4 separate regions of the Homo sapiens genome follow, and regions 1, 3 and 4 are each reported to be linked to region 2. The links are microRNA targets in miRTarBase. Many come from high-throughput screens and were not tested one by one. Region 2 holds a microRNA gene; each other region holds the end of a gene's coding sequence.
Evidence for each region. Region 2 holds the annotated microRNA hsa-miR-6776-5p (UCUGGGUGCAGUGGGGGUU, at 3,950-3,968, shown strand). A microRNA usually pairs through its seed, bases 2 to 8, with sites in the 3' UTR of a target mRNA and lowers its output. Matches are read on the target gene's strand: a 7mer-m8 pairs with bases 2 to 8, a 7mer-A1 pairs with bases 2 to 7 and ends in A, and an 8mer does both.

Region 1: miRTarBase lists CNTN4 as a target of hsa-miR-6776-5p. Seed matches in the 3' UTR shown: 7mer-m8 at 5,715-5,721 and 7mer-m8 at 4,144-4,150.
Region 3: miRTarBase lists AMBRA1 as a target of hsa-miR-6776-5p. Seed matches in the 3' UTR shown: 7mer-A1 at 5,478-5,484.
Region 4: the mRNA of DDA1 is a reported target of hsa-miR-6776-5p. Seed matches in the 3' UTR shown: 7mer-m8 at 5,089-5,095 and 8mer at 3,203-3,210.

The regions. Positions count from the first base shown.
Region 1 is chr3:3,053,969-3,062,005 of GRCh38, reverse strand. It overlaps CNTN4 (contactin 4), which reads right to left. Exons shown (of 25, transcript NM_175607.3): 24 at 8,031-8,037; 25 at 4,047-5,886. The coding sequence ends at 5,786. CNTN4-AS1 (CNTN4 antisense RNA 1) reads left to right here and starts at 861. Exons shown (of 4, transcript NR_046554.1): 1 at 861-939.
Region 2 is chr17:2,689,574-2,696,863 of GRCh38, reverse strand. It overlaps MIR6776 (microRNA 6776), which reads left to right and starts at 3,945; the gene lies at 3,945-4,003. CLUH (CLUH binding protein of NUMT mRNA) reads left to right here. Exons shown (of 26, transcript NM_001366661.1): 11 at 1-145; 12 at 326-430; 13 at 605-705; 14 at 1,338-1,490; 15 at 1,584-1,646; 16 at 1,763-2,007; 17 at 2,300-2,384; 18 at 2,588-2,741; 19 at 2,825-2,964; 20 at 4,004-4,084; 21 at 4,168-4,293; 22 at 4,382-4,503; 23 at 4,767-4,860; 24 at 4,969-5,103; 2 more. The coding sequence ends at 6,270. RefSeq lists enhancers at 4,638-5,145, 5,146-5,654.
Region 3 is chr11:46,391,528-46,399,564 of GRCh38, forward strand. It overlaps AMBRA1 (autophagy and beclin 1 regulator 1), which reads right to left. Exons shown (of 18, transcript NM_001387011.1): 18 at 4,887-6,416. The coding sequence ends at 5,923. It overlaps CHRM4 (cholinergic receptor muscarinic 4), which reads right to left and starts at 249. Exons shown (of 2, transcript NM_000741.5): 1 at 4-249. RefSeq lists silencers at 290-379, 560-609 and an enhancer at 1,263-2,037.
Region 4 is chr19:17,318,704-17,326,382 of GRCh38, reverse strand. DDA1 (DET1 and DDB1 associated 1) reads right to left here. Exons shown (of 5, transcript NM_024050.6): 5 at 3,085-6,837. The coding sequence ends at 6,727. It overlaps ANO8 (anoctamin 8), which reads left to right. Exons shown (of 18, transcript NM_020959.3): 17 at 997-1,666; 18 at 2,499-3,160. The coding sequence ends at 2,866. Among named protein-coding and RNA genes, the nearest start is that of ANO8, 12 kb to the left of the region's middle. RefSeq lists enhancers at 1-87, 1,532-2,032, 2,820-2,869, 4,411-5,027.

The sequences.
Region 1 (8,037 bases), not on the chromosome of region 2:
GGGTAACTGGGACTACAAGCACGTGCCACCATGCCCAGCTAATTTTTGTATTTTTAGTAGGAATGGGGTTTCACCATGTTGGCCAGGCTGGTCTCGAACTCTTGACCTTGTGATCCCCCCACCTCAGTCTCCCAAAGTGCTGGGATTACAGGTGTGAGCCACCATGCCCAGCCCTGACTTTCTAATTGTCTATGTTACTTTGGGCTTCTTATATAACCTCTTTGCTTCCATTTCATAAATAAAAAAGGAATAAAAACCTATGTCCTCCCCTTATTAGTGTGAAAAGCACTTTGAAAACTAGAAAAACAAATTAAAGATATTACTATTTGTTAAAGTCCTAGGACATATATATTTCCTGGTATAGTTCGTGTTATTCCTAACAATAAGGATATGTGGCAAAAACCCAGTTTACAGAGAATGGGGATATCACATGTAATTGCATCTATATTTAAGTAGCTCAGCCTTCCAATTTCCAGACTTTCAGATCGATCATATGGTTGACCTTTTTTAAAAAAAGCTTTCTCTCTATGTGATCTATATCACTAGAGCTCTGCTAATCTACCATGGCCCATAACTGCTTGTGATAAAGGATAGAGGCCAATTTTGTTTAAACTGTGATCTCTGTTGAGTATTGTAGTTTGCAGGTGAGTTGCAGAGCTGGAACATTTAATCCGCATGGCCCATTTAGCACAAGGGGAAACGGGGCCTCTTTGCAGAATGGGCAGCCTGACTTGCATTTACTAATCACACTCTGGCAGGGGGCCTGAGGAAATCACAGGAAACGGGGCCAGATATTCTCCTCCCTCTAGGTCTGAGATGGAGGTGACACAGGCCTTGTGCCTGGGAGCACAATGAGGAACCACACCCAGATGCCAACGCTGAGGTGCCGTGTGTCTACTATAAGGCGGAAGACACCAACAAAAATGATTTAAATATAAGGTACGAAGGGATGACTGACATGAGTGGGTACAGACCCCATCCCCTGGAGGTCAGAGAAATGCAAGGTCAATTTCAGATGGGGAAGCTGAGGGAGGCTTTGTGCAAAACCTGGCATCTGAATGGGAACCCTACTGCCTAAGTTTGAATTAGTTGATTGTATGATTAAAATTATCGAACATTAAAATTTATATTAAGAAGTGATCATGTTTAAATAAAAGGTGATAATGGATGTGTCAGCTGAGTTCCACTCATTTTGGTGATAAGAAGCATCCACATCCTACATCTGTGGGTCTAGTAAAGTCCCTGGAGAAAAAGAACAATAACAGACGGTAAAATCATCACTGTTTGGAGAGCTTTACAAACTTTATCCTCCCTAATAAGTAGCCAATCATTACAATGCACCCCAGGCAGTCAAACTCCAGGATCCACGTCCTTAGTCTTTGTATTAGGCTGCCTTTGTAAGGCCTCAGTGTCTGGCATTTTGTAATGGAAAAATCTGGGGTATGTCCACAGATTGAATATAAGTCCTTGATTTTAAAGGCTTGCCTTTCAAAGCACTATGGTTGGCCACATAACGTTTTTAGCCAGAACATTTTGTAAATTGTAACAACAGGAAAATAACAGTCACTTCTTGATTATAAGTGTTAACGGAGGAGAACAGTAGCATCGATAATCCAATGTAGTGAACAAAAATCACCTGTTGGTTGATTACATTAGATTAAAAACTGCATGACATTTTTGTTGCTAATTATGTGCTATTTGTATACTTTTTATAACTCAACATTCTTTGCGCATATTTGTAGTGAGGCAAGGTGGTGGAAGAGACTGGGTAAAGGTTAATCAGGATTTAACATTGCCTCCTGGATATAAACAACCACAATTTTGATGGTGGGAATAACACAATCATTCTTTCTTAATATCAAAGTCTATGCACCTTCTACCTCACAGGCTGGAAGAATTCAGAGCTTACCTGAGAAATGAAGCTTATCATCCATGTCTTCTGTGCCCATGGAAAGGTGCTGCTTTGTATGTAGCATGTGTGGGCTCCATAGAAAGTAGGTACACTGAGAGAATCCAAATATCTGGCACAATAGAATTTCCTTTCATACAGTTAAATCACAAGTGGACTACACACACAAAAAGGAGGGCAAGAGTAAGCACTTTGAAAGGTTAAACAAGCAAAGCAAATTTTCCTAGTGGTCCTCCTTCAGAAAAAAATCTCAAGCAGCAATATAGTCATTCCACTCGAGTGTATTACTTGGGCTAAGGGCCTAAGAAAGTCCCCTTGGCTGGCTAAGCCTAGAAAATCTGTTACTTATACCAACCCAGCATTTCTTCTCTTACCTTTGGAAAACAGCATCTTAGTTTTCCTTTAACTATCCCTCCCCTGTGAGTACAAGGTACTCTGGCTGTGGAACTCAAATGGAACTGATCACTTTCCCAGGAATCTGAATATTGAGCATAATGGCGTCAAAATTGGAAACAAAGCTGATTCATCCCCACAATAGCACCCCAAAAAGACTTTCCAAAGTTCCCATTGTCTGGACCCACAGAGTGGCCTGGTTCTTATTCTCCTCAAGAGTTGGTCCTTCAGTGTTTCCTTGGCTCATATGATGTAACCTGTGTCATTCTAATTCCTTACTTTTTGTTTGCTCAAGTTACCCAGGGTCGTTTCTTTGCTTACAGCCAGTGGACCCTACCTGAGGCAACCATGAAAGCCAACAAATGAGACAAGTTTGGGTGGAGGTGCTCATGGGGCACTTTCTAAAACATCTTCAATTCAGTTAGACTCAACTAATCCAGGACCTCATTTACCCGATGATGAAGCCAATTGGTCAAAGACTTCTTCCAGGTACAAAGTTAGAAGCCAGGCCTTTTAACGCTTTTCAGCACATAACGAAAGTAATGACACAGTCTTCCCTGGTTGGTTTGCTGTGGCACACAGGCAGGCAACTGATGCAAAATGCTACTTCAAAGACCCCTTCATTCAATTAATCAGTGAGTATTTATTGCAAGGCACTGTGCTAGGCACTATGGAGAGTACATGGAAGATAAGACCAAAGTCCCTGCCCTCAAGGAGCTTACAATCTAGTTGGGAAGACAAGCCATACATACAAGAAAAAGTAAGTAACAATACAGGAGTTAAATTAAAATGCAAGATAACAGTACAAGAGATTTCCAAAAGTAGTATCTGATTAATTACTAAATGAGCAGCATTGATAGGGGATGCAACTACTTCCAAGCGAGAATGTCATAAAGGACTGAAGCATGGGAAGTCTTTGCAGACAAACTGGGGCTGGAGCTACCCTAGGACAGCAGGGATCTGAATGGGAGAGAAGGGTGGAGAAGGCATTTCAGGAAGGGGCAGCCATAAGACCAAAGGCACAGAGGTGAGACCAAAAGCAAGCAGTGTTCAGGGGTCAGGGAGGGCTTACTGTGGCTGGATACACAGTTAAATCGTTTTGGATTAAAAAGGGCCTTAAGGGCCGGGTGCGGTGGCTCAAGCCTGTAATCCCAGCACTGTGGGAGGCCGAGGCGGGCAGATCACCTGAGGTCAGGTGTTTGAGACCAGCCTGACTAACATGGTGAAATCTCGTCTCTACTAAAAATCCAAAAATTAGTCCGGTGTAGTGGTGGGCGCCTCGGGAGGCTGAGGCAGGAGAATTGCTTGAACCTGGGAGGCGGAGGTTGCAGTGAGCCGAGATCGCAACATTGCACTCCAGCCTGGGTGACAAGAGTGAGACTCCGTCTCAAAAAAAAAAGAGCCTTAAATGCTCAAGCTTAGAACTTACCCTTTTAGCAATGGGGGGTGAGGGAAACAACAGATATACTTACAGTAAATATACAAAAGACTTAGCTAATCAAGAGAAAATATTCAAGTCTCATCTTCAGGACATTTACTTGTGGATTAGGACCCTCTCTACTTCCAAAGAGGATTTGAAATGGTGCTTCAGGGTTGTCAATTCCAAAGGAAAAGCTCTGGGTCATCTAGATTTGGGTAGAGACTTTTGAGTCCCTCTATGATCCCAAATTATAACTAGCACAAAGGTAAGCTAACAAATTCCCTGACAGGCAGGCAGGAAAAATGCTCCCGAAAGACAAGTATCTTTACAAATGACAGAATATTTATTAACAATACCTTTAAAAAAGATTACATATGCTAGATCACTGGTAAATATCATTTACACTGGGGTTGGGAACTCCCTGGGTGTCATTTTTTTTCGTTCATTTTATTATTTTGCTGATTTTTTTTTTGCATGTGATTTTAAATTTTATTTCAACATAGAAGTAACCATATCAAACTAAGAAAGGAACACAGCTTGAAATACTGACAATATTTTTTTCCGGTTACCACCCTAGTTTTTACACAAATGGAATCCCGATTATGACTTTATTGGATAAATATAACTAGAAGGTTGAAAAGTTATATTATTTGTAAGCAAAAATGACAAACTATAGCAAATTTGAGTTCTCTGAGAAAGAAGAAAAGGTGGCAGCATGTTTACATGAGAAAATGTTTATAGAAAATTCCATTGCCTTTTATGTCACTGTCCAGTAGGGTTTACTCACAAAACCTTTCTCATTGTAACAAATAGTTCTTTTCATAAGAATACAGTTTTGTTGATATTGTCATTTTCCAATGTGTGATTTTAAGACCTAGAAGGTAAAGCATATAAAGCAACTAGGCTACCTATTGCAAAACAGAATCATCAAGAAACCATACAATTGTACTAAAGAGCTTTTATAGAGTCATATTAAAAATTCTTGCAGCAACTATTTGTTGAAATAGGAGCAATCTTCCAAAGTCCATATGTAATTTTGATTCAAAAGAAGGGCTCTATTATTACAGAGATACACATATTATATATAAGAAATTTTGTAAAGAAATTACGAATCCATTGACAGAGAATTACTTTTTTTAAATTTACATTCAAAATAGATACAGTTAAAGATAATAAAATGATCTTTTATCCTTTGAAAGACTTGGTTGACTATAGTAACTTTGGGTCTATGTTACTACAGGATATATGTTACTTCAAATTTAATGTCTAAGATAATGCTACCACAAAGACAATGCTAACTCAGTTGAGTGAAAAGAAAATCTTCCTGTACAATGCTAAATTCAGGGATGGGAATATTGCACAAGGTGCCTCTTGGGCAGTACATTGAGCTTTTGAGATTGCAGCCATTCCTGAAACCATCTCAAGTTGGGTTGAACAACAAAATTCACAACGGCATGAAAACATACTGTACATGTCAAAATCACAACGGCATGGGAAACATACTGTACATGTCAAGTGCATTAACCACTAGAAGAGTAGTTTGCATACAACAGCCTTGAGTTACGGACCAAGTCTTCCGCTGTTCTGCCATGAGATCCTTGTAAAACTGTACGAGTAATTTGCAATTTATTTACCAAGATGAGTTTCAAACTCTGTCTTTAAAGGAAATATTTTCAAATTATAATTGCATGATTGTGTTGCCCATAGCATTTTACAGCCGAGGAAAAAATTAATATCTACATTATATGTTAACTTTAAAAAATTCTATAAAACACTAAATATATAATAAAAAATATGCATATAAGGACATATGTAAACTGCTTTGGTAACATCATATTACAGATGTCTTCAGTGCATTGCAGAGTTTCCAAAGAAACTTCAGACAAAGCTAGATTTGCTTTGAGGAAGTACTGTATAATGCCATTCCTAAAGAAGCAAAAAACATTTTTATTCCAGTAATAAGATGTACTTGAACAACAATATTACTTAGTACTGGGTGTCTTCAAAACAACTAGCTAAATGTTGCTTATATTATAAACAGCAAGTCCTTCAGATAACTTTTGTCATAAACTGGACCTAGCTGTGAGGGAAATCATTATTGTACTGATGGCTGACAGCGTACATGCATTCGAAGTGGAAGCCCCAGATCCTCTCGCGTAGGCATCTGAAAAGAGAGAACAAATTCACTCAAAACAGCCCCATCCCGGCTTCAAAGGGAAGAGGGGCCACGGGGCTTTTTGAAACAGCAGAACTGCATGGATTCTACTGGAAATGATGATCAAGGTCTTAATGGCTTTTAAATATCAGTTCTATGACTACCAAGCTACAAACCTGGGAGTAGGGTATAGGACAGCCCTGTACCTCTGTCAAAGCATTTGTAAAGTAAGGAGGTTCCTATCTAATGTGAGAAGAAACTTCAATATTACTAGTAACAATACTGATAAACAGCATGCTATGTCGATGATTCAACAAAATGAAAATTGCTGCTCCCTTTTGAACTCTATCTTTCTGCTGGGCACAGATGAATATGACACTTAAATCTTGCAAAAACTGGATGAAGGCCAGGTATTATTATTACCTCGCTTAACAGATGGCGGTAATTTGCGCCCAGAGAAATAAAGTAACTTATCTAAGATCACCCAGCTAGTAAATGGCTAAACTGGGGTTCAAACCCATGTCTGTCTAAATCTACCCCTTTTCTGCAAACAAAATAGCCTCAATCCTTTTTTAAATTTTCTTATGGGTCTTACACTTTTCATAGTAAGAAGCTATCAACTGTCATTCGGGGGTTCTTCAATCTTGTAAGGTCTCTTTGACCAACATGATGAAAAATCTCTTGAAACAGATCATGTTTGGTTCACAGTCACTTCCTTGTTATCTAATAATTACACCAATATAATTGCTTAATATATGTTTTTGTAATGAATAAAACCAGGAATCATCAGTCTATCTAAAAATGTCAATCCCTGCAATGATAAGAAAGTATGAAGTATAAAGTCAGATTTTTAATGAAGCGAGATAAGCCCCAATCTTGTATTTTTGTGGCCTGGAGATTTTACTTCCACATCTCACCAAAAATCTAGCTCCCTTTCGATAGAAGTTAGAGGCTTTGTTTGATAAAGTATAATCCAATTGTCCCCCTTTTAAGACAAAAATGCCTTTTGTGTTTGTATGCAAAAAAGATGCAGTAAATATAAACTCCATCCAGAAACACTGGCATATCACCCCTTAGCAGAGGGATGTCACATGGCTAAAAGTCAGGATGGTGGTGAGGATTTTGTCCATAATTTAAAATATCATCTTTTTACCAATGTCTTGAAAATTTATACCTCCAGCCTTCACTGCTCCCCTAATCTCCAGACTGAAATCTGAAAGCCTGTGAAAGTCTACACTTAGATATCTAACCACAGTCTTTTTTTTATTGCTGTAAAATACACATAACAAAATTAGCATTTTAACTCATTTAAAATGTACAAATCAGTGGTACTAAGTATACTCCAGTGTTGTGCAACCAGCACCACTCTCAAGCTCCATAACTTTTGTGTCACCCCAAATGAAGACCCAGTGCCTAAACCCCCATTCCCCACTGACCAGCCACTGCCAATCACTAGCCTCACTTCTGTCTCCACGGATTTGGCTATTTTGTTTTTTTTCTTTAAATAAATGAGATCACACACAACAACAAAAAAATCATGCTCTTAAGATACTTACAAACATGGTATTTGTAAAAACAGAATTGAATGTATTTGCTCAAAAAGAATATGCTATTCTCCCATGCTATTCAACAACATTTGAAAGTGAAGATAATCTTGACTATAGAGAGACATACACATTGATGCACATGTTGCATATACCCATTGAAAATAAGTAGTAAATTCCAAATATTTCCAAGATACTGAACTGCATACACTGTTTCACTGGAGAAAAACTGCTACGGCATACTTAACAATGCTTGTCCTTGTTCCTTCTGACTGAGTCAATGCTTTTCACTTTCTAAACTGTAATTCTGGGGCTACAATAGATGCAATGCAAACTACACAGGTTGACACGGAAAAACCTTAGTGACTAATTCGGGTCTGCTTTAATCTGATTTTTGATTAGCAACTGAGTAGATCAGTCAACACGGGCAAACTGATTTTTGCATGAAACTGCCTATGGCCAGCAAACATCTGGAGAAGGGGGGTAGTGTTCTCCATTTCTATTTTAAGTCTGCTTTTGCAGGCTGAATGTCTTTCAAGCCCTGACTCATCTGGAAGGCTGATAAGATAAGACAGGCAGGAGAAAAGGGAGAAAAAAAGGCATTCTCACTTGATAT
Region 2 (7,290 bases):
GAAAATGGTGGTCCTTCCTCCTTGGAGTCCAAGTCTGAGGATCCTCCAGGACAGGAGGCGGGAAGTGAGGAGGAGGGTAGCAGCGCCAGCGGCCTGGCCAAGGTGAAGGAGCTGGCAGAGACCATCGCCGCAGACGACGGCACAGGTGGGGCTGCTGCAGATGGCCGGGAGAGAGCCCGGGCTGGCCCTGCCAGGGTGGCTTATGACCCCCACCTGGGAGAGGCTGGCAGACATCTCTGCAAGGAGCTAGGGGGCGAGGCTTGGCGCAGCCCAGCTCCACCGGTGGCAGAGGGGACCCGTGTCTCATGGAGCCATGTCTCCACAGCAGACCCTCGGAGCCGGGAGGTGATCCGCAACGCGTGCAAGGCGGTCGGCTCCATCAGCAGCACCGCCTTCGACATTCGCTTCAATCCTGACATCTTCTCACCAGGCAGGTGGTGGGGGCCGGCCAGCGCAGGAGCCCTCCAGGGCCAGAGCTTCGCTGGGGGGCCTGGGCCCTTGGGGCTGGTGGGTTTGTCCCCCATCTGAGCGCTTCCCCCGCCAGCGCCAGGCGGCATTTGTCTTGCCACTGCCTGGCTCAGCCTCTCTGCTCTCCCTCCTCCAGGGGTTCGTTTCCCTGAGTCCTGCCAGGATGAAGTTCGGGACCAGAAGCAGCTGCTGAAGGACGCGGCTGCCTTCCTGCTCTCCTGCCAGATCCCTGGCTTGGTGAGGGAGGGGCTGCGGGGCTGGGTGGGGCTTGTGTGGAGGGTGCTGGTCCCTCATCTGTCTCCGACTTGGAGGCCCATGAACACAGGCTCGCAGGAGTGACTTTTTCAGCTTTCCCTGAGTGGGCATCCCCGTTTGACAGATGGGGAGCCTGACCCCCAGAGGTCAAGGGCACAGGCCCTGCTGAGCCCACCGTGTGGGCTGGCAGCTGGTAATCCAGTCTTCTGAGCCCTGGATGGTGGCATGGCTGGGGGACGGGGCCAGAGCTCAGTGGGGGCTGCCCATCCTCCTCCTCCTCCCGCAGGCTCTGTGTCTGGTTCCAGGATGCTGGGTGCTCCCCCAACACCGTGGCCTCCAAGCCTCAGGACACGGGGCTGGGGGTCAAGTAGTGCCCCCAAGCGGGCACCTCTGCTTCTCCCACATGGTTAGAGGGGGCCTGTACCACCACCGGGCTCTTGGTTCTTGGCCTGCGCTCCTGCCAGAGGCTGGGCACATTCTGACATCCTGACTGGGAGCTGGAGCCTTCGGGGTCCTTCTCCAGGGCCTCCCAGGATAGCTGTGCTCCCCCAGAAGGACTCAGTTGGGTGGAGGCAGAGGAGCTGGGTGGGGGCCTGAGCTGCTGCAGCCCGCAGGTGAAGGACTGCATGGAGCACGCGGTCCTGCCCGTGGACGGGGCAACGCTGGCAGAGGTGATGCGCCAGCGGGGCATCAACATGCGCTACCTGGGCAAGGTGCTGGAGCTGGTGCTGCGGAGCCCGGCCCGCCACCAGCTGGACCACGTCTTTGTGAGTGCTGCCCGGGGTGGGGCGGAACGGGAGCTGTGGGACTGGGATGGAGGCCGGGGGCCTGACCAAGACCTCCCTTCTGAATCCTTCCAGAAAATCGGCATTGGAGAACTCATCACCCGCTCGGCCAAGCACATCTTCAAGACGTACTTACAGGTGCCACCCGTCCGCTCTGCGGCTGGCCATGGCCTCCCAGGGTGGTGTGGGGCGTCGGGAAAGAGCCTGAGGTGGGGCTGAGGGCCCTCATGACTCGGATCCAACCTGCCTCGCAGGGAGTCGAGCTCTCCGGCCTCTCAGCCGCCATCAGCCACTTCCTGAACTGCTTCCTGAGCTCCTACCCAAACCCCGTGGCCCACCTGCCCGCCGACGAGCTGGTCTCCAAGAAGCGGAATAAGAGGAGGAAAAACCGGCCCCCGGGGGCTGCAGATAACACAGCCTGGGCTGTCATGACCCCCCAGGAGCTCTGGAAGAACATCTGCCAGGAGGCCAAGAACTACTTTGACTTCGACCTCGAGTGGTGCGTGCGGGGCAGGGGCGGTGGGGTGGGTGGGATTGGGCAGATGAGGCGGCCACCACCTGCTCCCAGATGGCGTCTAAGGCCTGTGGTCATAGGCCAGGGAGTCAGAGAGAAGAGGGAGCAGCTGTGGAGATCACTGGGTGCTGGAGGGTGAGGGCAGCCGGGAGGCTCCCGGGGGCCGGGTGGGGCAGTGTTGGGGGCCCGGGCTGGACAGCGTTGGGGAGCTGGGTGGGGCGGTGTTGGGGGGGCCCGGCGGTGCTTGGGCTGCTCAGGCCCCCTGCTCCCTCCTCAGTGAGACCGTGGACCAGGCTGTGGAGACCTACGGCCTGCAGAAGATAACGCTCCTGCGGGAGATCTCGCTGAAAACAGGGATCCAGGTGGGCATGGCTCACAGCATCCCCGCTGTGTCCCCGCTGTGTCCCCGCTGCGTCCCTGCTGCAGGCTCCCACTCCTGGCCAGGGCCACAGGGGAAGTGGCTTTTTCACGGTAGCCGTCTGTGCGCAAGCGTTGGTGGGTTGGGAGGTGCCAACCCGCTGAACCTGGGCCTGAGGCTTCCTGTGGTGGGGGGGCTGCCCCCCAGGTCCTGCTGAAGGAGTACAGCTTCGACAGTCGCCACAAGCCCGCGTTCACCGAGGAGGACGTGCTCAACATCTTCCCCGTGGTCAAGCACGTCAACCCCAAGGCCTCGGATGCCTTCCATTTCTTCCAGAGCGGGCAGGCCAAAGTGCAGCAGGGTGTGTGGCCAGGTGGGGCTGGGTGGAGGTGGGGGTTCCCCATGGCCCGTCCTGACCTTGCCACCCCTGGGGGTGCCCTGCAGGCTTCCTGAAGGAGGGCTGTGAGCTCATCAATGAGGCCCTGAACCTGTTTAACAACGTCTACGGAGCCATGCACGTGGAGACCTGCGCCTGCCTGCGCCTCCTCGCCCGCCTCCACTACATCATGGGCGACTACGCAGAGGTACCCTCTGGGCTGTGGCAGCAAAGGCCTGGCCTCGTGTTGGGGGATGGGGAGTGAGGGGGCCCCTGACGGAGGAGTGGGTGGAGTCCAGGGAGACCCCAGGAAGTCGCTGGTTCTGCCCAGGCCACCCCTGGCTCCACCCCTCTGTAACTGTGTCCCGAGCGGGAGAGCTCAGGAGCACCCTGTGCTGCGGTGAGGTCAGTTCTGGGAGGCGATGGCAGGGGACCCCCCCACAGGGCGTCAGCAAGGACGCCTCCTGAGACTCCGTGAGTGGGCAGGAAGCATGCCACCGAGCTCCCACGTCCTCTGTGCCCAGTGCAGGCTGTGGGGTTCTGGGTGCCCTGCCTGGCCGGGGCTGGTGGAGGCTGTGGTGGGGTTCTGGGTGCCCTGCCTGGCCAGGGCTGTTTCAGGGTTAGCATGTCTTAGGATCCCTACTCCCTGCAAAGGGACTGTTTTTTCTTCTGTTTATAAATGGGTGGGTTGTTTGTTTGTTTGTTTGTTTCTGAGACAGGGTCTTGCTTTGTCACCCAGGCTGGAGTGTAGTGGCGTGATATCGACTCCCTGCAGCCTCAACCTCCTGGGCTCAAGCGATTCTCCCACCTCAGCCTCCCGAGTAGCTGGGATTACAGGCGTGAGCCAGCACACCCAGCTAATTTTTGTATTTTTAGTAGAGATGGGGTTTCATCATGTTGGCCAGGATGGTCTCAAACTCCTGACCTCAAGGGACCCACCCCTGCTCAGGCTTTTTTTTTTTTTTTGTAACATTTTTAGTAGTTTTAGGTTTGTATTTGGGTGTTTGTGGAGATTTTGTTGGGTGTAAGACATGGGTGTGTGGAGCTCTCTGTGGAGCGTGACCTGCCCTTCAAGGTGTGGCAGCAGCTGCTGCTGATCCCCCTCCCCCCTGCTGCACTGTGCTGGGCGCAGCCGGAGGGGACAGGAGCCTGCAGAGCGGCACCGTGGGCTGCTGGGCCGGGGCCAGGCGGGCTCTGGGTGCAGTGGGGGTTCCCACGCCGCGGCAACCACCACTGTCTCTCCCCAGGCCCTGAGTAACCAGCAGAAGGCGGTGCTGATGAGCGAGCGGGTGATGGGCACCGAGCACCCCAACACCATCCAGGAATACGTGAGTCGCGAGTGCCGCCCGCGCCGGGGGATGCGAGGGGCTGGGTCCGCGGCCACCCTGACCTGTCTCCGCCCCGCCCGCAGATGCACCTGGCCCTGTACTGCTTCGCCAGCAGCCAGCTGTCCACCGCCCTGAGCCTGCTGTACCGCGCCCGCTACCTCATGCTGCTGGTGTTCGGGGAAGACCACCCCGAGATGGCGCTGCTGGACGTGAGTGCTGGGGCGGGGGGGCGGCAGGGACCCAGCTCCATCCCAGGGGACCGGGAGCTGACCAGGGCCCCCCACCGCCTGCCCCCAGAACAACATCGGGCTGGTGCTGCACGGGGTGATGGAGTACGACCTGTCGCTGCGCTTCCTGGAGAACGCGCTGGCCGTCAGCACCAAGTACCACGGGCCCAAGGCCCTCAAGGTGGCCCTCAGGTGAGGGGCCGCCCGTCCAAACGCCAAGGCCGGCGGAGGCCTGCGGGGCAGCCGGCGGGGGCGGGGAAGAGACCCAGTGCTCCTGTCTTCCTCCACCCGAGAAAATTTCTCTCGACCTCCCCCTCTTCCCTGAGCCCTGGACTTGCTGTTCCCCTCGGTGGCTTCCAGGGAGGGATCTACGGGAGACCCCGGGCCCCCGAGTCAGGCCCCCACACCCAGCCCACTTATGCCCTTCCCTCGCCCCGCGCCGCGCCTCCCGGCAGCCACCACCTTGTCGCCCGAGTCTACGAGAGCAAAGCTGAGTTCCGGTCGGCCCTGCAGCACGAGAAGGAGGGTTACACCATCTACAAGACGCAGGTGCGCGGCGGGGGCGTGGCGGGGGCGGGGGCGGGGCGGGGGCGTGGCGGGGCGGGGGCGGGGCCGCGGGGGCACGGGGGGGCCTGATCCCTTCCCGCCTCCCCGCAGCTGGGCGAGGACCATGAGAAGACCAAGGAAAGCTCCGAGTACCTCAAGTGCCTGACCCAGCAGGCCGTGGCCCTGCAGCGCACCATGAACGAGATCTACCGCAACGGCTCCAGCGCCAACATCCCGCCCCTCAAGGTGAGTCCGGGGCGGAGCGGCCCCTCCGGCCCGGCGAGCGCGGGAGCCCCGCTCACCGCTGGTTTCCCCGCCCCGCAGTTCACGGCCCCCAGCATGGCCAGCGTCTTGGAGCAGCTGAACGTCATTAACGGCATCCTCTTCATTCCTCTCAGGTGAGGCCTCCGCCCCACTCGAGTGTCTCCCGGTTGGGGGTTTTTTGTGAGTCGGAGTCTCGCCCTGTCACCCGGGCTGGAGTGCGGCGGCGCCATCCCGGCTCACTGCAGCCTCCGCCTCCCGGGTTCAGCGATTCTCCTGCCTCAGCCTCCCCAGTAGCTGGGATTACAGGTGTCCGCCACCTCGCCCGGCTCATTTTTGTGTTTGTAGTAGAGATGGGGTTTCACCACGTTGACCAGGCTGGTCTCGAACTCTTAACCTTGCGATCCGCCCGCCTCGGCCTCTCAGAGTGCTGGGATTCCAGGCGTGAGCCATCGCGCCCGGCCCGCCCCGCTTATCTTCCCCAGCATCCTCGCATTCCGCGAGTGAAGACCTTGGTGTTTCTGCTTCACACAAAGTATCTTGGCGTTTTCCCACCAGTCCCTAAGAAGCGGCTTCATTCCCTCCCCACGCTTCCCATCCTGCGGCGGGGGGGGGCTGAGGAGCAGGCCCCGGGCTCCCCGGGGTGGCCACAAGCAGTGTGGCCTCCTGTGGGGAGTGGATTTGGTCAGCAAGGCGTGGCAGCAGCCCCCCAACTCCGCTTTCCTCCCCCTGCGCTGGAGGGAGGCCACCGAGGGCAGCGAGGGGAGCCCCGAGGCCGGGTCAGGTGCGGGGTCCTTACCTTCTCCGTGTTCAGGGACCTTCCGCCTTCAGGAGGGAAGCGCTTGTTCACACACATTCCCCACTGAATAGAGCGCAGAGCCTGAGCTTATCCCACAGGAAAGCCGGGAGGCGGGTGGAGCCCCCAGGACTCCTCTGAGAGCCACCTCCATCCCCACCCTTATCCTCAGCCAAAAAGACCTGGAGAATCTGAAAGCCGAGGTGGCGCGGCGGCACCAGCTCCAGGAGGCCAGCAGAAACAGGGATAGAGCCGAGGAGCCCATGGCTACCGAGCCCGCGCCAGCGGGGGCCCCAGGAGACCTGGGCTCCCAGCCCCCGGCTGCCAAGGACCCTTCTCCGAGCGTGCAGGGATAGAGAGGGAGCCAGACGGACAGCCAGCCAGCGGCCCCGTCACCAGGGAGCCCGACTGCGGGAGAAGGGGGCGAGCCTGCGGGCGGAAGAGGAAGCAAGGCCCTCTTCCTCCACGTCTCACCCCACCCCACCCCCGTGTCCTCCTGGGAGCCTGGCCTGCCTGCCCCGCAGAAGGTGTTTTTGCGCTGGTTCAATGAATAGATGATGCAGAGGCCCCATTGGAGACACGTGAATGGCGTGTGCGGCCATCAGTTCCCGGCTGGGGGGCAGGTGTTGCTTCGGCCCCCGCCGTCCGGCCGGCGTGTGCGAGTGCGCCCCTGGCTGTGAGTGTTGACCGTTCCTCTCCCCTGTACATAGCCCGAGCCAGTCCTGAGTGGGTGACTCCTGAGTGGGTGACGCGCAGACGGGATTTCTCAGGTCATTTGTATGGTCGACATGATGGCTGCTGCTTTGGCTGCCACCACCCCCGGGCCCAGCCTGTCTGAAAGTTCAGGGTTTAGGCCGAAAAACCCGGTGGGGAGGGGTGGGGAGCCGGAGCTCTGTGGCGGGGCTGGAGGGCTGGGGTGCACTTTAGTTTGGGGCGGGACGGGAGCCGCCGTTGTGACTGGCGTGGTCTGGCTGCTGCTCCCGAACGGAGGGGTCGGGGTTGGCTTGCTGGGCCCTCAGAGCCCAGTGGGTGGCTCTGACTCGGCTCCCTACTCCCTGCACCCAGCTGGGCGCAGCCTTGGGGCCTGCGGTCTGAATGTATCCCTCCCCTCAGTTTTAACCTGAGCTGCCGAACGCACAGTGGGCCGGGGGCGAGGCTGGGGGAAGCGGGGCCCAATTACGGATCCCGGGAGTTACAGGTGCCGACGTGATGTCGCTTCTCTGGTGCCCAGCTCCCTTCCTGGTCTGAGACTAGCTCTGGGGGTGGCGGGGGCCCCCACACGCTGCTCCCGCTCCACCCTGCCCGTGCTGCTGCTCTGTGCCTGCTGTCAGAGCCCTGGTGGGGGAGGATGTGGCCACCCTGAGACCCGGAGGAGA
Region 3 (8,037 bases), not on the chromosome of region 2:
CACCTCTGGGGAGCCTCAGAGCGTCCCGGGGACCTGCTTCCTGCTCTTCCCGGCGAGCCCCCCGCCCCCGCGCCGCCGCGGAGCCACTTACCCGCCGCCTCTGCCCAGCTCCCCTCGCGCCAGACAGACGGCGGGACGGACGCGCGGCCCCGCGGGCCGGCGGGGCGGGCGGCCGGGCCGAGGGCCGGGGGCGGGGACGGGGTGTCGAGGGGCGGCCCCTGCTCCGCCCGCAGCTCCCGGCGCTGTGGCTCCGACTCGCGCTCACGCTCGCACTTTTCCCCGAGCCGCGTGATGTCACGAGGAAGCAGCCAATCGTGGCGGGGCCGCGCCGCCCGCCCCGGGCCGGTCACCCGGCGGCGACGCGCGGGGGTCAACACCCGAGGCGTCGGAGACCCCGGCGGTCCGCGCCCCTCTCGGGGGCTGGCCGGCAGCTCCCTGCTTGGGCACAGAGGGCGCCGCCCACGGCCAGCGACGCAGGGGAGCAGGGGGCGCTGCCCTCCGGGGGGTGGGGGTGTCCGCGTTGTCATGGGGACGCGGCGCCCCCTCGCGGGCTGGGGAAGGAGCTGGCAGCTGGGTCCGGCCGCGCTCCCGCCTCCGCCCTGACCATACTCCCGGGACCCTGAGCTATTTTCGCGCCTCTCCGGGACCTCAGCGCCCTGCGTGGCCCCGCTGGCGGTTTGGCCGCGAGGCGCGGGAGTCTGACCCCAGCGGGAGGCTGCGGGTGGGTGGGGCGGGCTGCGCCGCCAGGGATCCGTCGGGGTCGAGGGCCGGGAGCTCCAGCCGCGCCGCTGCGTGCCGGCCGGGCCGCCCGCGAGGAGGGGCGCCGTCGGGGCCTGGGGAAGCGCAGGAGCGGGTGGACTGGAGAGGTTCGGCCGGGGAGAGAAGAGCCCACCGCGGACCACTCGCCCGCACCCGCTCGGCTGCCTGCTCAGCGTTCCGGGCCGGGGAAGGGGCGCGCCCCTGCTCTCCCAGCCCTGGGATGGGACGCGCCGCCAGTCCAGGCGCAGCCTGGACCGCCAGTTCACCGCCGCCTGTGAGGGACAGTCGGTTGCCCAAGGTCGCCGGGGCCGGAGCCCGGGACAAGATCCCGGAGAGCGGGCAGCCAATCTCAGAGGTCGCTGGGAACCGCACGGGCCGTAGCCTCAGGACTCCGGGCCTCGCCCAGGCTGGGCGGACCTTGGGGCGGCTTCAGCACCTCGGAGAGCTCCCCGCGCCCTGGCCCAGCAGCCTCGCCTGCCTGATTCCGCTCCAGCGCTTGTCTCCCTCCGAGAGCGCCCTTCCGGGGGACCGCCGGGGTCGGACGCTCCCCACTGCGCCCAGGACCGAGGCCTGTAACCCCAAATTCTGATCGCAAACATTTGATTAAGCTTAAGACGTCTGATTTCTTCTCTCGGGGAAACAACTCAAGACCCTCCCCCGAGGGCCGGAGGTGGTGAGGGCGATTGCGGGGGCGGCGGTGGAGGAGAGGCAGGAGCCTCTTGGCAGAGAATGGGAGGGAACTCGAGTAGAAGCCAGCGCTGCGGGGCTCTTGGTGTGGGGTTCTCCGCGCGGAACCCGGAAGTGGAGTTCGGGTCCCCAGAGCTCGCGAGCGCGACGGCTGGGGTTGGTCGGAATTGGGAACTTCAGGGCTGGGGTTGGTTGGCTAGAGTAGGAAGCCATCTTCTGTTGTTACATGAATGATCGGGTCTCCCAAGACCTCATAACTGGGGGTGAAAGAAGCACTACTCTTCTTGCCCCACTTCACAAATAAGGAAAGTTGGTTCATAAGACCCTAAGACGGCACTCCTGCACTTCTTCCACTTTGCCATATCCTTCCCAGGGCACAGAAGAGTGTGATACTCCTAAGAGGAGGTGGGGGTTGTGGAGGAGGAAGGCAGATAGATCCTTAAAACAGTCAGATGAGAAAACAAGCAAGGCCAAGGGCGGGAGGCTGCATACACAAGACACGCCTCCAGCTACTGACCCCAGCTCTTCCAGAAGCTGGCAGGCAAAGTCACTTTAATTTCTCCACAATCCCTGTTATGAAGGGCTTTTGACCTCTCTCAATCTCCCAACCCCAAGAACCCACGGTGGAACCCTGGAGAGCTGAATTGGGAACAAGGGGACTTGGTGGTTTCTCTGCTCTGCTTTTGATGCCACTAGGTCAGCAGACAAGTAACAGAATTTCTCTGAACCTATTTCCTCATCTCCAAAAGGGACTGCCCCTATCTTTGCCCTGGTGACCCCACAACCTTGTGACGTGTAAGGGGCCTGCAAAGGTTTTACTACCAGAGAGGCTCTGTCATTGGGCAAGGGCTTTCTAAGGAAAGGGGCTGGTGTGGGGACAGAGAGGTGTTGACAAGGGCCTCCAATGGGGGGTGGGGAGGTTGGGGAGGGTGGCTGGCACCATCCAGAGACAGCAGAGACAAGGCCTGGCAGGTCCAAATTTGGACCACCTTGGCCGGATGGTGGCTCACGCCCACAAACCCAGCATTTTGGGAGGCCGAGACAGGCAGATCACTTGAGGTCAGGAGTTTGAGACCAGCCTGGTTAACATGGTGACACCCCATCCCTACTAAAAATACAAACAAAATTAGCTGGGTGTGGTGGCACACACCTGTAATCCCAGTTACTCAGGAGGCTGAGGCAGGAGAATTGCTTAAACCTGGGAGGTGGAGGTTGCAGTGAGCTGAGATTGTGCCATTGCACTCCAGCCTGGGTGACAGAGACTCCATCTCAAAAACAAAACAAAACAAAACAACAAAAAACAAACAAAAAAACCCAAAAAACAAATTTGGACCACTTCATCCCTAGGGACCTCCCCATACCCTTTTCCCCAAAGCAACAGAACAAGTCAGGGTTCCATTGTTTCTCCTACACCTTGTCTTCCTTCTGTAGAAATGACTGGCTGAAGTGTGCACTCTGGAATCATACACTACTTGGTTCAAACTCTGGCTCTGCCAGTTAATTGTGTGCTCTGGGGGTAACAGCAGTAATGACCTCAGAGAGTTTTTGTGAGGATTGACAGAGAGAACGCACATTGACTCCTGGCCTGTGGTTTACATTAAACAAATTAGCAGGACCCACTATCAGACCAAGGAATTCTTCCTCCAACGGGTGGTGGGGAGAGGATGTGGGGCAGTGGGCTCCCTTCTCCTTCCATCCTTCAATGCTTAGCTCAAATCCACTTTTTTTTTTTTTTAAAGAGATAGCATCAGCCGGGCACGGTGGCTCATGCCTGTAAACCCAGCACTTTGGGAGGCCAAGGCAGGCAGATCACCTGAGGTCGGGAGATCGAAACCAGCCTGACCAACACGGAGAAACCCCATCTCTACTAAAAATACAAAATTAGCCAGGCGTGGTGGCTCATGCCTGTAATCCCAGCTACTAGGGAGGCTGAGGCAGGAGAATCGCTTGAACCTGGGAGATGGAGGTTGCGGTGAACCGAGATGGCACCATTGCACTCCAGTCTGGGCAACAAGAACGAAACTCCGTCTCAAAAAAAAAAAAAAAAAAAAAGAGAGAGAGAGATACGGTCTCACTTTGTTGCCCAGGCTGGACTTGGACTCCTGGGCTCAAGTGATCCTCCTGCCTCAGCCTCCCAAGTACTTAGGGACTACAGGTGTCTAAATCCCACCTCTGAAAGGAAGCCTGCCCTAGCCACTTGTGTGCTCTCTGGGCTTCAGTGATTCCAAAGTACAGAACTAGAAGTAACTTTGAGGTTGTGTAGTACAAGCCCTGCATCCTAACAAGGGAAAGTGAAGCCCAGAAAAGGCAAATGGCTTGCCCAAAGTCACACAGCTAAGTGATGTGTCTTTCAGTCCAGAGTCCACTAATACAGAATTTTCTAGAAAATAAGAGTCTTCCTAACTCTGGCCATGGTTTTTTATTTCTTGCTTGCCAACTTATCTTTTGGTTTTGTCTCTGTTGGAGCAGAACCTGGAATTCTGAGTGCCCCATGGCATCAGGGACAGATTTGGGCACACACACACACACTCAAAAGTACGTGCTGCTGGCAAAAAGCCCTGGAATTGCTTGGATTTTCCATTAGAGCTCTTGAAGAGTTGGGGCAAATATCCTTTTCCCACTTGAGACGGAGTCTCACTCTGTTGCCCAGGCTGGAGTGCAGTGGCGTGATCTTGACTCACCGCAACCTCTGCCTCCAGGGTTCAAGCCTCCCCAGTAGCTAGGATTACAGGTGCGAGCCACCACGCCTGGCTAATTTTTTTGTATTTTTAGCAGAGACAGGGTTTCACCATGTTGGCCAGGCTGGTCTCAAACTCCTGACCTCAAGTGATCCGCCTGTCTCGGTCTCCCAAAGTGCTGGGATTACAGGCGTGAGCCACCACGCCTGGCCAGCTGGAAGCTTTCAAGCAGCCAAAGCCCACGAATAGAGCAGGCCTTTCGGCCACTGTAGGGAAGACACAGTCAAGGGAGACCTGAGCAGCTAGCAACTGGCACCTTGCCTGCAGATAGGACCAAGCCCCTCCACCTGCCTAGCAGGCTGGACACCTGCTGTGCGTGCTTTCCCAGGACTGGAGGGGATCCAGGTTTCTGGCCAGTTACATCACTTCAGGCCTGTAGTCCTGGGTGGGAAGCTATTAGGATGAATAGCCTTCTGTCGTTCCTTCCTACATACTCACCCTGGCACTGGAAGGTGGCCCCAGTCTGTAGCAGGCCCTGGGGAAGCAGGAAGTGGTGGCGTACAGAGAAGTGGTATGAAGCAGAGGTGGCAGCCCTCACCTGACCAGCTCTGGCGAAGGGGTCAGAGGGGTCCACTGCACCCCACTAGGAGAGCACCAGAAACAGTGCCGGGAGAACCTGGGCCTGGCCCAGTTCAATGCCCCTCACTTCCCAATCCCCACCCCTCCCCCATCCTCCTTGGAAATAAGAGAGAGGAGCCTGGCGAGGGGCATGTCATCATTTTAATGATGTGATCTTTGGTGTTTCCCTCATTAGCTGTAGACTATCCCCTCTCCTCCCACCACAATGTTTCTATGATGAGTTACAAACAGAAAGGAAATCACATTTTCATACTAAAAACAAAATGATCAGAGCCTTGATTTCTCCACTAGAAACTACACGTACAGTTAAGAGTCCACATGCAACACCTTAAATCACAGACTGAGACCTCACATTCTGACCTGGAGTCTCCTCCCCTTCCCCAGCCTTGGGCTAGCTTTGGCCTAGGCTCAGGTAATACTGACACCCACAGGCGCTGCTCTGAGGGCCTTGCGGGGAGAAGACTGGTGGACAAGCCCTGGGGGCTGGCCAGCCTACACCCCCCACTCCTGAGTGAGGACCTGCCCACTGTCCCTTGACCCCATCCTGTATCAGGCAAGCAGGCGCCCCCTTACCCCACAGTAGTCCCCCATTAGTAAATGCCGAAGTCCCTGTCCTCAAGAATCTGGGAGCCTGGCCCGATCCCTGTTGGTTTCAGTGGGGTAAGACGACGAAGAGAGGCTGAAGCTCTGGAAGGCTCAGAGTTGGAGGTGGTGTCTGGGTTCCTGGTGGCTCTGCCCACCCAACAGGTGGACAGGGCAAAGCTGCCTCGCGGGCCTCTGTCCAGGATGATTGGCCCAGATCTGGAAGACTGTTCACTCTCTGGAGGCTCTCTGTCCAGGGCTGAGTCCCCTGAGCCCATGTTACTAGGAGAAAGTGGGGTGCCTGGCAGAGATACCCACTTGTTCCTCTATTCACATTAAGCCCACAGTGTGGCTCTCCCGGGCTCCAGATCCTGGAAGGTTCTAGTTCCCCGAGGCAGGCCTTGCCCATTTGACTGTCTTGTGCCCACTGACTGATCTTCCTCTCCACCCTGACCCTCTTCCTCCTCCTGTTCCCTGATGCAGCCAGCAGCTCTTCCACATGTCCAGTTCCCAGTCAGCTGTGAGGTCCGGTTTCTGCTTGGCGGTTCGAGGGGAGGCACCAGTGCAACGTTTGTCTCTACCTGTTCCGTGGTTCTCCCCTAGGGCCTGCAGCGTCCCCCCTGCTGCTGCCACCATCCAGAAGGTGGTTGTTATTGGTCAACTCGCAGTGGAGGGTTGGTCCCTCAGCGCTGGGAAGGGAAACAGGAATGGGGACAGGGGAGGAAGAGGGCAGGGTTGGCTGGGTTGGCTCCCGCCCAGGGGTACCAGGCTGGTCCCAGGAAGCTGTCCGGGGGCTTAGGCCTCGCTCTGCCAGTTGCCCGGCCTCTGGGAGCAGTCCCCGAGAGGTGGAGGGCTGGGGTGAGGAGGTGTGGGCGGCACCAGGTTCAGTGCCCGTCTGAGAGCTGCGGTGAATGCGGTGGCTGACGATGATGTTGTTGCCGAAGCCGCCCATGGAGGCCATGGTGGTGCTCTGCTCCCGCTGCACCACGGCTGTCATGCCGCCCTCCGCCATCAGCCTCTGGATCCTGCTGAGCGCATCTTCTCCACTGGCACCATACTCTGAACCCTCACCTGGCAGATACAAAGCAGAAGAGAGAGCGAATTGGCTGCTGGCCTGGGCCTCTGAGGCAGGTGGGCAGCCACCGGTAGCAGCTGGGGGATTCTTGACTAAACGCAGGATAGAGAAAGACTCGCTCCATCACTGTGAAAACCAATCCGAGTCTTGAAAGCTAGACAAAACCCCCAAAATGTTCACAATCCATACTTCTGTTTTACTGGTGGGGAAACTGAGGCCTAGGATGGCCAGTTAAGAGGCAGCACTGGCCCAGAAGGCAGCAGGTTGGCCTCAATGAGTTCTCTCAGCACCAGTGGCAGCTTAGCATGCGAGAAGGCAGGTTCAGACAGCTGGTTTTGTCTGCCTGCTCCCTGTTGTGGAAACTCAGCAGACCTAGGGCTGAGCTGGGGTATGCCACCCTTTCTCTGCAAAGAGAGTAGGTACCCTATGGGTGTGGCCCAAAGGGAAACAGTCTGCTCTGCTTCATTACAATGCTGTCTTCCTTCAGCGTAGTTTTGTGTTACCTCCTCAAAGCCCCTGAGGAAGCTGAGAGTTATTTTTATATTGATTGATTGATTGATGGAGTCTCACTCTTTCACCCAGGCTGGAGTGCAGTGGTGCGATCTCAGCTCACTGCAAGCTCTACCTCCTGGGTTCACACCATTCTCCTGCCTCGGCCTCCTGAGTAACTACAGGTGCCCGCCACCACACCCAGCTAATTTTATATTTTTAGTAGAGACAGGGTTTCACCATGTTAACCAGGATGTTCTTGATCTCCTGATCTCGTGATCTGCCCACCTCAGCCTCCCAAAGTGTTGGGATTACAGGTGTGAGCCACTGCGCCTGGCCTATTTTATTTATTTTTGAGACAGAGTCTTGCTCTGTCACCCAAGCTGGAGTGCAGTGGTGTGATCTTGGCTCACTGCAACCTCCGCCTCCCGGGTTCAAGCAATTATCCTGCCTCAGCCTCCCAAGTAGCTGGGATTACAGGCATGCACCATCATACCTGGCTCATTTTTGTATTTTTAGTAGAGATGGTGTTTCCCCATGTTGGCCAGGCTGGTTTCGAGCTCCTGACCTCAGGTGATCCACCCTCCTCGGCCTCCCAAAGTGCTAGGATTACAGGCGTGAGCCACCACGCCTGGCCATATTTATTTATTTTTTTGAAATGGAGTTTTGTTCTAGTCGCCCAGGCTGGAGTGCAATGATGCGATCTCAGCTCACTGCAACCTCCACTTCCTGGGTTCAAGCCATTCTTCCGCCTCAGCCTCCGAGTAGCTGGGATTACAGGTGCCCGCCACCACACCCAGCTAATTTTTGTATTTTTAGTAGAGACGGGGTTTCACCATGTTAGCCAGGCCAGTCTCGAACTCCTGACCTCAGGTAATCTGCCTGCCTCAGCCTCCCAAAAGGCTGGGATTATAGGCATGAGCCACCGTGCCCAGCCTTTGTTTTTTGAGATGGAGTTTTGCTCTTGTCACTCAGGCTGAAGTGCAGTGGCACAATCTTGGCTCACTGCAACCTCCACCTCCCAGGTTCAAGCGATTCTCCTGCCTCAGCCTCCTGAGTAGCTGGGATTACAGGCTCCCACCACACCTGGCTAATTTTTTGTATTTTTAGTAGAGATGGGGTTCCACC
Region 4 (7,679 bases), not on the chromosome of region 2:
TTACAGGCATGTCCCACCACGCCTGGCTAATTTTTCTATTTTTAATAGAGATGGGGTTTCACCATGTTGGCCAGGCTGGTCTCCAACTCCTAACCTCAAGCAATCTGCCCACCTCCCAAAGTGCTGGGATTATAGGCGTGAGCCACCGTACCCAGCCTGCAGCCACGGTTCTGTCTCTTGCCTGTTCTCTGGGAAGCAGGGGATCGGTTGAGGCTCAGGATTGGTTTCCACTTTACCAATTCCTAAGACGCTGTCTGGCACACAGCCGGGGACAGAGTTGATGGCCAGTGAATGTTTGTTTTCTTTTCAATTCCCAGAAAGTACCGGCGTGGGTCCAGGGATTCATTCAGTTGCACCCAATAAGCCTCGGAATCTCTCTCCAGTTCCCCAGAGAACCTCAGTGTGGGCCCAGAGATGAAGCTGGCGCCCAATACGCTTTTTTTCTTTTTCTCTTTTTTGAGACAGTCTCGCTTTGTCCCCAGGCTGGAGTGCAATGGCACAATCTCAGCTCACTGCAACCTCCGTCTCCCGGGTTCAAGCGATTCTCCTGCCTCAGCCTTCCGAGTAGCTGGAATTACAGGCGTGTGCCACCATGCTCAGCTAATTTTTATATTTTTGGTAGAGACAGGGTTTTGCCATTTTGTCCAGGCTGGTCTCGAACTCCTGGCCTCAAGTGATCCTCCCATCTCAGCCTCCCAAAGTGCTGGGATTACAGGCGCAAGCCACTGCGCCCAGCCCCAATAAGCATTTAAGCCTCCCTCATTTCCACAGAGAGGCTGATCATGTATCTGGGAATGCCGTTTGCACCCAATAAGTGATTGGCTCTCTCCCACTTCTGCAGGGAGCCCCCATTGTGGGTGCAGGGATACAGTTGGAGCCTAATAAGCATTTAAGTCTCCCCCACTTTTGCAGAGAGCCCTGGCATGCACCAGCCTCAGCTGGCACCCGCTAACACCCTTTCTTCTTAGTCCTGTAACGGCTTGGCTCTACCTGCAGAGACACGAGCGCCAGGCCCAGCATCGCTACCAGCAGCAGCAGCGCAGGCGGCGGGAGGAGGAGGAGCGACAGCGCCATGCAGAGCACCATGCCCGGCGGGAGCATGATTCTGGTGGCCGAGAGGAGGCGAGGGCCGAGGGCTCTGGGCTGGACCCTGCCACCTCCTCCGAGAAGGCCTCTGCCAAGGCCAAGGGCAGCACTGCGGGTGGCCACGGGCCTGAACGGCCCAAGCGCCCAGGGTCCCTGCTGGCACCCAACAACGTCATGAAGTTGAAGCAGATCATCCCACTGCAGGGCAAATTCCTCTCGTCAGGGGCCACATCCTCACTGGCTGCTGCAGGGGCCGGAGCCACCACCCGGCCTCCCCCTGCCCAGTCACCCACAGGCAGCGACACCCGCCTGCCTGCCTTCCTCAGCTTCAAGTTCCTCAAGTCACCCGAGACCCGGCGGGACTCTGAGCGCAGCCACTCACCGCCCAAAGCCTTCCATGCTGGCAAGCTCTTCCCCTTTGGTGGCACCCGGGCTGAGCCTGGGTCCAACGGGGCGGGCGGGCAGGCCCGGCCAGATGGGACCCCCAGCAGTGGCAGCAGCCGGGTTCAGAGGAGTGGGCCGGTGGACGAGGCCCTGGCTGAGGAGCTGGAAGCCCCCCGGCCCGAAGAGGAAGGCTCAGGTCACAAGCTTTAACTCGGGGGTGGGGACGCCGGGCCGGCTTTGGGGATAGGGTAGGGTGGCCAGGCCTGGGGAGAGGGGCTGAAGGGGACAGGGGAAGCCCGGTCTTAGGTCCTGGTGGGGACCTGGGTCAGTGGTACGTGGAGCCTCTCAGTTAAAGCCTGCTTAGTATCTCCAGGGCCTTTGTTAGCCTGGAGCCCCGTGCCTGACCCTCCCCAGGGAGGGATGCCAAAGCCCCTTGTCCCAGGACTGCACCCAGGGACCCCCACCATGCTCCGGTGCCAGGAGAGATGAGGGAGGCCTGTTTCCCAACCAGCCCACCCTTCTCCTGCTCCAGCTCACTCTTGGGGGGGACTTGACCCCCCAGGCCTCTATGCAAATCCACACCCTGCAGCCCAGCTGTTCAGGAAGGCCTTCCTCGAGGTGGGGCTGGGGCTGCCCACCCAGGGAGCTCCCACATGTGCTGAGCAGAGGTGCAGGCCTCACCCCTACCCTCCCACCCCCACCACCTCCCCTGCCCCAATCCCAGCCTGGGCTCCAGCAACCCCATTCCCAGGGAGCCCAACAGGTGGCAGCTGCAGCACAAGGGCCATAGGTCAGAAGCCAGAGGGACTTCCTCAAACTGTCCTCCCCCTGTGACCGGCAGGGCCGTGCCCAGAGGCAGGGTATGCACCGGAAGCCGCCCAGGGGGCCGCCCCACCTCAGTCTCTGATCAGAAGCAATAAGGCCTTTATGTGCCTGGATGCCCGGGAGGGAGCGCGGGCAGGGTTGCCAGCCCGGCGGGGTCCGGCGGGGGCGGCATCCCCCCGGAACGGCCCCTCTCGCCTCCGCAGGGACAGCGCTGGCCCCCGTGGGCGCCCCTGCCCTCCGCACCCGCCGCAGCCGGAGCCCCGCGCCGCCGCCGCCAATGCCGCTGCCCCGGCCCCCGACACCGCCCGCAGGCTGCTGGCAGTGGGACGGGCCCTGGGGCTGCGGGGGCGAGGGTGCCGCCCCCCGCCAGGCCCTGGCCGCTGCCGAGTGCCCACCCTGTGCCATGGCCGGGCCCCCACCCGCCCCCCAGCCCCTGCCGGGAGACGCCAGCTTTTACAGCCTCCCGCCCCCACCGCTACCGCCCACCTCGGATCCCCTCGAGACCCCAGCGCCCTCCCCTAGCCCCAGCCCCAGCCCCCAGGCCGTGTGCTGGCCCAGCGGCTGGCATTAGCTCTACCCGCCCTGCCTTCTCTTCTCATATGCAATATCAGTCATTCACAGGGGCGGCCGGTCTCCAAAATGCAAAATGCGCTTCAGCCCCCGAGGGCCCCCAGTATTGGTCGGTGCCCCCCATCTGCCGTTTTCCTTTCCAAACGAAAGGAAACCCACAAATCCAACAGAAAACACACACACACACACACACACACACACACACAGAACAGGCGATTATTTATTTGTTTTTAATTTATTTTGTCATATTTTTGTAAAACGGCAGAAATGCAATAAAAACTATATTTCAACAGTGCCCGAGGTCAGAGCAGTGGAAAAGGGAGTGGGGGTGGGGGAGTCTGGGTGGCTGGGGCCTAGGTTGGGAACCCCCTCCCCCCATCCTGGTACAGGCTGGCTTGACCCATGAGGGCCTCCTCCCAAAAACTGGGTCTTGGCCACAGATGGAAAACTCCAGGCTGCGCCGCCTCTGAGACGGCCCAGATTTGGAGGCCAACTTCAGCCCTGGCTTCAGCCACTAGACAAAGGAAGGAATCTCTAAGTGCTGAAAAGAGGCGACAATGTGTGCACAGGCCCCAGTCCTGAGTAAGACTCCTTCTCAAAGAGGACAGCGCGGTGGTTTGCAAGACGTGGCCCCTTCTGGCACACCCGCCTCCTGGAACATCGTCTGGGGAGCCAGAGACAGTGGGAAGAGCTTGTGGCATGAACATCAGAAGGCACCTGGCACCTGAGCCTCCTGCAGTCCCCGACTTGTGATACTGAGAGAATGGCACATTTGGGTGTCCCCAGGACACGGGGTGGCATTGGGATGCAGCAGGGATGTCCCACTGTGGGACAGACATCAGACCCAAGTCACTGGGACTCTGTCGTATGACTCAGGAACAGGAACGTGGCCTCTCAGACCCTCACATTTTTCAGGAAGAGGACAAATGTGTCCACATCCAAAGGCTTAAGGCTCAGAGACCAACATGGCCATGCTGCAGGGCTGGGCCAGTGTGAGCAAGGGGCCCTTTGGGAGGCTGTGGAGAAGTCAGAGTTCACTGGAGGCAGGAGAACAGCCTGTGCAAAGGCGGAGAAGGTGGAAGGCAGTTTGGGGGAACAGTGGGGTAAAGGGGACCCCAAAGGCAGGAGGGGTAGACAGAGGCCGGCTCAGGGGCCCAGCGTCCTCCCACAGGCAGTGGGAGCTACACAGGGTGTGTGTGCCAGGTGGGGCATGTCCCGACAGACCCAGGGGTTCTAGGGGGAGGCCACAGGGAGGCAAGCTGGGGCACAGCCCTCAGACCCCAAAGGAGGGAGCTGAGGTAGGGGAGGGGAAGGAGGTGCCCGCCCAGCAGCCCTGCAGAGCGACGGGCAGACAGCACAGGCAGGAGACAGCCCCCAGCCACTCAAAGCAGAAACTGGGAGCCAGAGAGGTCTAGACAGGCCGAGGGGAAAGGCGGGAGTGCCCCCTGCTCCCACTCTGGCCCCTGGCCTTGGAAGCTGAAGTCCCACCATCTCAGTCATTCACAGATGGACACCGCAGGCCTGCCCAGGTCACACCAACCCTGGGGACTGGGACTCCCCAGCTGGCCTGGGAGCCTCCAGGGCATTCAGCCGGACCCGGCACCATCGACCGCAGTCAAGTGTGCATTTCCTGACCACCTGTCCTGTGACCACATGGCCCCTGTAGCACCATCACTGTGGTGTAGACACTGCCGGGAGCTGGGAGGTACAGCAGGGTGGCTGTGCTGTGCCTGGGCCTGGTCAGCCACTCCTTGTGTAGGACGGGAGCCCACCCTGGCACTCTCCGTCCTTGGGAGAGATGGGCCGCCTAGGCCCGAGGGTCTGACACAGGCAGGGCCCTCCACAGTGGAATCTGGGGCAGGCGGACCCTCCATAGCCCGGAGTGTCTGCTAGCTCTGTGGCCCAACCCTACACCATCCCAACGCCCTCAGACTCAGCTCTCAAAACAGAGACCTCTGCCAGGCACGGTGGTTCACGTCTGTAACCCCAGCACTTTGGGAGGCTGAGGAAGGTGGATGACTTGAGCCCAGGAGTTTGAGACCAGCCTGGGCAACATGGTGAAACCCTGTCTCTACAAAAAATTTTTAAAATATTAGCCAGGCAGCCAGGTGCGGTCACAGCACTTTGGGAGGCCGAGGCAGGCGAAGCACCTGAGGTCAGGAGTTCGAGACCAGCCTGGCCAACATGACAAAACGCCGTCTCCACTAAAAATAGAAAAATTAGCTGGGTGTAGGGGCGCACGCGTGTAATCCCAGCTACTCAGGAGGCTGAGGTAGGAGAATCACTTGAACCTGGGAGGCAGAGGTTGTAGTGAGCTGAGATCTTGCCACTGCACTCCAGCCTGGGAGACACAGCGAGACTCCATCTCAAAAAAAAAAAAAAATTAGCCAGGCATGGTGGTGGGTGCCTGTGGTCCCAGCGGCTTGGAAGGCTGAGGTGGGAGGAAGGCTTGAGGTCGAGGCTGCAGTGAGCTGTGATTACGCCACTGCACTCCAGCCTGGGAAAGAGTACAAGACCCCAACTCAAACAAACAAACAAAACAAAACAAAAGAAAACTGAGATCCCCACCACCACCAGTGGGGGCAATAAGGGGAGAAGCGGTGTTCCCCCAGCCCCAGGCTCAGTGGTCAGGGCCACAAACCTTCTGCCCAGAGCCCGAACACCCCTACATACCCAAGCTCAGCCCCAAACCCAGCCCAGCTGGCGGAAGAGGGGTCCCCATGAGCGGCCATGGCACATGCCAACTGCCAGGTGCCAACCTTCTGTACAGCTCCTCTATGACCCAGCAAGGGTGAGGCCACCACCTAGGACAGCAAGACCGGCCAGATGCCGTCTGTACTGTCACCATGCCTCAGGGGAGCAGCAGAGGCCAGAGACCCCAGGCCCCCGGATGAGGCCGGCCATCTCTGCGGTGTCTGACAGGTGCGCTGCCCTGCTTGGCGGTATCCCAGGCAGGGGGCTGACCCCGCTCCATCCTTGGCACCATGGACCGTCTCTCAGGAATGACCTGTCCTTGGGGTCACCTTGACAGGAGAGGCAGAGGGGATGGTCCAGGCAGGTCTTGGCCTTGAACATGGTGGCCTCAGCAAGCCCACGAGAGAATCCAGCCGGTCCTGGGGCCCCTGGCGTGGGGGGCCCTTCTCACTCCTCTTGGTGACAACAGGGATGACTCCCAGGGGCTCCGTCCTCTGCAGCCAAGGTGTGTGGAGCAAAGACGCGAGGTCAAGTAGGAAAGACCCTTTTATTGGGGTGGACACGGAGCACGCACTAGTCCATGATAAAAATAAAATGACTCAAGAGAAAGATCCCAAGGGCCGACTTCTCCCCAACGTGCGTGCACGCTGAGTGAGGCCTGGGCATGGGAAAGTTCCGGGCGAAGCGTGGGACAAGACCGAGTCTCAATGGCCTGGACCGGTGTTGGGGGGGAGAAGGCCACTCGGCTGTCCTGGTAGGTCAGGCCACCCCGGGCCCGCCCCTGTCGCCCGGCCACAGTAAAGCCCCCGCTAGAGACTCTCACAGACACACTCTGGTTCTCTGGAGAACTGGGGGCAGGAATCGGGGAACTGGCCCGATGGAAGGCGGGGGTCGGGGGGACAATGTTGTTTTTTTTAAAAAGCATCTACCAACATCACACTACTGGGTCTGATGTCCCCTTTAACCAACGCTTGATACAGGTTACAGCATAAATAAAAACTCAAGGAAAATAAATACATCGGCTCCTATGAGGTTGGAAGTGGTGTGGACGCAGGGTGTGGATGGGCCGGCAGGGAGGCGGGCGGGCGGGGTGCTTACACATGGCGGGCAGGCGGGTGGGCGACCGAGGAGCAGACCTGGCAGGAGGCGCCTGTGGAGTTGAGAGTCTTAAGTGTCCTCGTGCATGTCTGGGCTGTCGGTCCGCGCCACCTTGCGGGGAGGTGCGGAGCTCTCGCCTTCCAGCTCCACTTGCTCCTGGTCTCTCTTCTTGGCAGCGTTCTGGGGGACAGGGAAAAGAGAGGGGCTGTGAGTCTTTTTTTTCGGACAGCCTCAACCTTCTGGGCTCAAGCAATCCTCCCAGCTCAGCCTCTGGAGTAGCTAGGACTACAGGCACATACCACCACGCTTAATATTTTTACTTTTGGTAGACATGGGGGTTTCACTATGTTGCCCAGCTGGAGGCTGTGAGTCTTCACGTGGGTGAAGCTCCCAGAGTCATAATGCCAGCCCAGGCCCCTGCAGCAGCATCACAGAGGTAGGCCTGGAGTACAGTGGGGGGCCCCAGGGTCCCTGGCTAGGCAGCCCCTCCTACCACCAGGACCTGCCCCACTAAGCCCTGCCCAGAGCACTTTCTGGACCCATGCCTGGTGATAGACAGGTGTTTCCTGGCACCCGGAGTCACCCCCACCACATGCAATGACCCACACAGGGCTGGTTTCTCAAGCACTCAGAGGAGCAACCCACCCAGCCTGGGAATAAAGGGCCTTTGGAAGCCACTGGGGATGCCGCACATCAACGCAAGACAGAAGCACACGCCTCCTTCCCCGCTGTGGAAACCAAGTCCTGGGGGGCAGGAGAAGGGGTGGGGGTGGGCCCAGCAGCTTGGATTTTCAGAAGCAGTCACTTTGCCACACAGTCCCCCGACCTTCCAACTTTGCGCAGGGTAGGCAGCCACCCACTGTTCAATGTTAGGTAAAAAAAAAAAAAACAAACTTGCCAGGCGCGGTGGCTCATGCCTGTAATCCCAGCTACTCTGGAGGCTGAGGCAGAAGAATTGCTTGAACCCAAGAGGCGGAGGTTGCAGTGAGCTGAGATCACGCCACTGCACTCACTCCAGCCTG